Regions from separate parts of the Homo sapiens genome. Here region 2 is linked to region 1. Evidence: fine-mapped expression QTL. Tissue or cell type: uterus. Region 1 holds a variant in brackets; the other region holds the start of a gene. All regions are shown on one strand. Distances are between the middles of the regions.

Evidence for each region. PIP is the estimated chance that this variant, and not a neighbour inherited with it, causes the effect. A credible set is the group of variants that fine-mapping cannot tell apart.
Region 2: it holds the start of SLURP2, and the variant in region 1 is the best candidate, but not a certain one, in a credible set for the expression of SLURP2 in uterus (GTEx, PIP 0.69).

Annotation. Positions count from the first base shown.
Region 1 is chr8:142,792,920-142,795,596 of GRCh38, forward strand. No RefSeq gene overlaps it. Among named protein-coding and RNA genes, the nearest start is that of LY6D, 7.7 kb to the left of the region's middle. The variant C/A (reference allele first, on the strand shown) is at 1,386.
Region 2 is chr8:142,768,642-142,771,318 of GRCh38, forward strand. It overlaps SLURP2 (secreted LY6/PLAUR domain containing 2), which reads right to left and starts at 1,187. Exons shown (of 3, transcript NM_177458.3): 1 at 1,114-1,187. The coding sequence starts at 1,165. The region is part of intron 3 of LYNX1-SLURP2 (LYNX1-SLURP2 readthrough); the gene reads right to left. It overlaps LYNX1 (Ly6/neurotoxin 1), which reads right to left. Exons shown (of 4, transcript NM_177477.4): 4 at 2,561-2,677.

The sequences.
Region 1 (2,677 bases):
AAGGAAAATCCCCAAGATATTGAGTGCATCCTTCCAGAGGGTCTCCTGATAGGTGGGCTGTTTCACTCCTGCTCTCCTGTCCTCAGGACAGGCATTCTTCTTCTTACTCTGCCTGTGGTCCTCCCTTGCCCTGTAGGAGTTCCTGTCCCACCAAAGGACTCCCCACCATGAGTCAGTGCAGACCAGCTCCCTCACGGGAAGTCCTAGCAAGACCTCGGACCAGCCTTCCGCGCTTCTCAGGCAAGGGTTACTTGGTGGTCTGCAGTGGCTTTGTCCCTCCAGGGCCTGTCCCCAACTCAGTGTTCCCACCAGTGGGCACTGCCCTTATACCACTTATGTGTCCTCTAGGAGTTAGTTAGAATGATGTCTCTCTGTCTCTCTCCCCGCTCTTCCTTTTCTATTCACCCACACCTGCCCCTGACAAAACAGTAATTCTCAAAGGCCAAGGAGTCCATCCTGGCAAGGGTTCCGAGACCCTTGGGTCTGCAGCAGGTCATAGCAGCTTTGGGGCTGGCAACACCCAGACCATAGACACATGCTTTTTAAAGGTTACAGGATAACTTGGGGGGACATCATGGATCCTAGCCCTTAGGAATGAAAGAACTATCTTCCATGCACTGCATGCCCTGTCTTCAGTCTGTTGCTGGCACCAGCACCTCCACAGGGCCATGTGAGTTGTCACCACATGACTTGGGTGGAGGAGGCTTGTCTTTGCTCCTCCTGGGATCAGGTGACTGCTGAGCTTTGAGGCTGGAGCGTCCCAGCATGGCTGCTCCCTGCTCAGCTTGGATGTTGGGTCCTGGGCAGGGCCTGGGGTGGGCTGTCCCTGCAGGAGGTGTGCGTGTTGCTGCAGTCCTCACTGGGTACCGGGCCAGGCCAGGCTTCCAGGGGAGGGAAGAGAGGCCCATGCTGGGCCCTGCCAGGGAACTCACCAGGACCCCAGGGGCTTAAGGGATCAAGAGGGTGTTACATAAGAAGGGAATCGGGTGGGTCCTTGGGGAGCAGGAGATGCCGAATGGAAGGAGCATGGAGGCCCAGGAGCCCCTGAGCCCATGCAGCTGTGCCCGGGACAGAGGAGCAACTCTGACGGGCAGCCCAGGTCACAAGGAGCCAGGTCGGCACTGAAGGGACCTGAGAAAGCCCCACCCACCTTCATTTCAGAGCTGGCACTGCTGACAGCAGGGTCTAACCACAATGCTGGCTCTGGGTTCCACTGTCCCGCACATCTCAGCCTGAGCCCTGCTGAGCCTGGTGGCCTCTCCTCCCTGGACCCAGACCTCCCTCGGGCATTTCAGGGGTAACTCATTCCAACCCATTCAGCCCCACCTCTCCCCCAAACTGCTCCTCCTCAAACCCGCAGAGGCCATGCAAGGGCCCCCAGAGGC[C/A]TACATCTCCACCCTCCCTCTGCCTCTCCCTTGGCCCCAGTCTGGCCCTGCCTCCTCCTGGCTGGGGGCTGTGCCTGCCTCTGCCTGCACCGCCCCGCCCTGCAGTCCTCACTCCTTACCCTGCACTTGGGTTGGATGCAGTCCCTCCCCTGGACCCCCTCAGTGCTCTCCCACACTCTCAGCCTCCCTGTCCTGCCTCTGGGCCCTGACTGGGCGGTCTGTGTGCTCTGTCCATCTCGGGGGGCTGGGTACCCCCTTCTGTCTCGGTGCCCGGGTCTCCTCTCAGGCCATCAAGCCCTGTCCTACCTCCGGGCCTTTGCACATTGACCTCATTGTCAGAGACACTGGTGCCTTCCAGAGGGCCCCAGCCACGGCCCCCGAGGCCTGTCCCTCCTACCCTCCTGCCTCCCTCACACCTTGGCCAGGCGCTGCAGCCCACATGAGCTTGTCACTTTGCCTGCTGTGCCCACTCTTACCTGCCCACTCGAGGGCAGGGACAGTCTGTCACTGTGGCATCTGAGAGCCATGATGCCTGGTGTGCAGGAGATGCCCTCCAGAGCTGCTGACTTAGTGATGTGGAAGCCGGAGGGCCCAGGGGTGCAGCTGAGCACTCACCAACCCAGGAGTGGGGCTCCCTGTGCCCCAGCTCTTCCCCTGTGGCGAGGGGCTGTGGTCAGCTTTGTGTGGAAACAGCCTCCTTGCCATGCCTGGCTTCTGGACACAGAGGCTCCTGCAGGCAGAGGCTGTGGGCTGCTGGGTGGCATCAGATGCGGTTTCTGTTGGGACTTGCAAGGGTGGGGCCTGCCCTGAAGGGTGAGCCCCTCCTGAGTCAGCCTGCCTGGGAAAGCTCCTCGGGCAGGAGTCAGGATTCCCACCTTCCTTGAGAAAAGAAAACTCCAACTTTACTCTCAGGGTGGCTGAGAGCACCTGACCGCACACCAACCTCCCCGTGGATCCCTAGAGCCCAGCAGGCTGGGGCCTGTGGAAAGCTATGCTGGGGAGCCCGTGGGAATCCTGACAGCCTGGCTCCCAGGGGGTTCACTCAGGTCCCTTCAACCCACTCGGCCCTCTACTGGCCTCCAGACAGCTCAAGGTGCGATAACGGGGGAGAAGCCCGCTGAGGCAGCAGGAGCTTCTGGAGCTTTTCCCGCTGACCCGAGCTCCCTGCTCCTGGGTGCTTGGGAGCACAGCGCTCCCTGCAGAGTGCTTCTTTAGCACGGGCACGGGCTCGGGAGACCAGTGGCAGGCTGGGTGGGGGCAGCGGCCCCGGGAGGCTGAGAGGAAGCACTGGG
Region 2 (2,677 bases), 24 kb before region 1:
ACTGCCTGTCCAGTCCTGATGGTTACAAAGGCCTTCTCCAGGTTAAGTCGAGTCCCCAGGCCCCTGTGTGTCTCGGACCTTCAGCACAGAGCTGGTCTGCCCTCATGACCCTGGGGCAGTCCTCAGGGTCAGCGGCTCAGCCTCTCATAGGCCAGGAGGGTGCCCCTGGGGATGGAGACTGGAGGGATGTAAGAGACACCTGAGCCAGCGCCAGGGACTCACCGACGCTCCACCCCCTGCTCATTCAGGGCCTGGGAGGCAGGGGCTGCCCAGGTCGTTCAACCCACAGCCAGGGACGCAGAGGCTTGGCCCCTGGGGGGCTGGGCTGCTTGGGCTTGGAGGTGCAGGCCACCGGCAGATCAAGGGGCCAGCTGGTTTTGTTGAGGCCTCAGGGTGGGGGTGGAGATGCCCTGCCAAGAGAAGACGTTCAGGCTCTGCTGGGGGATGCCAAGGCCAGGTGTGCACAGCTGTGCTTGAGGGGTCATCCCCTTGGAGCCCTCAGGAAGGCCCTGGGCCAAGGGATCTGAAGCTGGGGGGACAGGGCCAGCCGTAGCAGACGTGGGCACTGCGGGGGTCGAGGGTTGGGGGATGGGGAGGGGGTAAAATCACCCAGGAAAGCGGGGAGCAGAGGAGAGGACCCGGGAGCAGGAACTGGGGATGGGAGAGCAGAGGGACTTGGTTTTCCCAGGCAAGAGGGAAGAGGGAGTCCCGGGAGGGTGGCCCCAGGAGACAAACCAGCTGGGAGGCCAGGCCCAAGAGGGCTGGAGGGGGGCACATTCAGAGTGTGTGTGTGCACGTGCACGAAGGTGCGTGTGTGAGGGGTGTCGCGGTGGACTGGAGAGGTCTGGGGGCTGGGCAGAGGAAGAGGGGGGTTTGAGCCAAGGGCTGTGCATCCTGAGAAGTGTGGGGGCCAGTGTCGGGGGCTGGGGCTGAGCTGGATGGACCTGCAGGATCGCAGGAGGCTTTCGGAGGAAAGCTGCACCTGGTAGATGGTGGGGGGACAGGAATGGGTTCTCCCGAGGTGGGCAGTCACAGCCCAGGGCTGGAGGGACGGTGGTTGGGCTAGAGTGATGGGGGCCTTGAGCAGGAGGTGGCCCCAGCCCCTGGACTCACCCAGCTGCAGGCTCAGGACGGCGGCCAGCAGGAGCCCAGTGCCGAGCTGCATGTTCTCCTGGTGAGGTCGGGCTGTCGGCGCCCTGGCCGGCTGCCTTATACCTGCTGGCACCCCGCCCTGGCCCTCGCCCGCTCAGCAGACTCTGCGGGTCTGAGTCACCAGGCAGCCGGGCTCAGTCAAGGAGCCGGGCTGGGGTCCGGGCGGTAGGGGCCAACCTGGCCCCAAAGCTCGCTGGTTAGGCCTCTGAGCGGGCCGGTGTCATCTCATGAGCCATCTCTCCTTGTCCATAAAGTAGGGATAGCCCTGGCTGACAGGATTGAGGATCTGATAAAATGGCCTGGCACCAGGCAAGCAATGGCCACAGGCCACTCTCCCTCAGTGGCTGGGAAGGAAGGCCTGGCACCAGGCAGGTGACGGCCACAGGCCGGTCTCCCTCAGAGGCTGGGAAGGAAGGTCTGGTGGGAAGGAGGGTCTTGGGCACCAGCCACCAGCCCACCCCTTACGCCTCAAAATGCACATGAAGCTCAGGGCTGGGTGGAAGCCACAGGCCTTCATCTGTACTCCCACCCTAGAATGAGTTCCATGACAAGACCTCCTCCAAATAAGCCAGAGCTTTCCCATCCTGACCCCCGCAGGGCTGGGAGAACACAGAGGGAGCATGGTTGTGAGCCACCTCTCTGTCATCCGTACAGGGAATCATGGCCATTGTCACACTGTGACTAACGCCCCAGGATCTGTGCAGAGGAGTAGGGGGGACAGAAAGGCCCTTGGTACTAAAAGGGACCCCAAGGATAAGGTAAGAGCCCAGAAGGGACACCCTGGAGAGCGGGAGCCATCAGCTGTTCCTCCAAAGGCTGGCCAGGGGCTGGGGCCCCAAAGGGCCTGTCCGTAGCCAGTCAGCCATGCCAACCCGGGGACCCCTATGTGTCTCTCGGGCTGCCCACATGGCTTCTGTCTACCCCTCCGTTTCGGGGGCTCCTTATGGCTGGGAGGTGGGCCCAGGAGGAGGGAGATCCTGAAAGAGGGGCTGGCAGATCCAGGCCCTCCTTCCTGGGGCAGTCGAGAAGCTGGGGTCAGGAACCAGGTAGGCAGAGAGGTCAGAGATGGTGGGATGGGGTCCTGGGGGAGTTCCCGCCTCCCTTACCCCGCACACCCAGACTTCCTCAGGGGTTTGTATGCCCCTCAGGGGTGCTGGGTGGGGGGTGGCCTCTCTCCCACGGAACTGGGAGCAACTCTCAGCAAGCCCCAGGAGCCCTGCCTGTCTCCCTCCCTGTGCCTGGCTCCGAGGACAGGTCAGGCCTAGAGGCCAGAAAAGTCCAGGACCTGGACCGGGTAGGGTAGACAGGAAAGTGGCTGCATGCAGCCTGGAGTGCCAGCCCAGCCAGGCTGGAAAGGTGAGGCCCGAGCTCAGGCCGAGGCAGTGGGGCTGGAGAGAAGCGCAGACAATGCGAATCTGTTGATTTATTTACGGCTCGGTGAGACGACGCTGGACGCTGGTTAGGGTAAGGGTTAGGGCAAGCATTAGCAGCAGGGGCATGGCCCTGGGAAGCACCTGGACCCCAG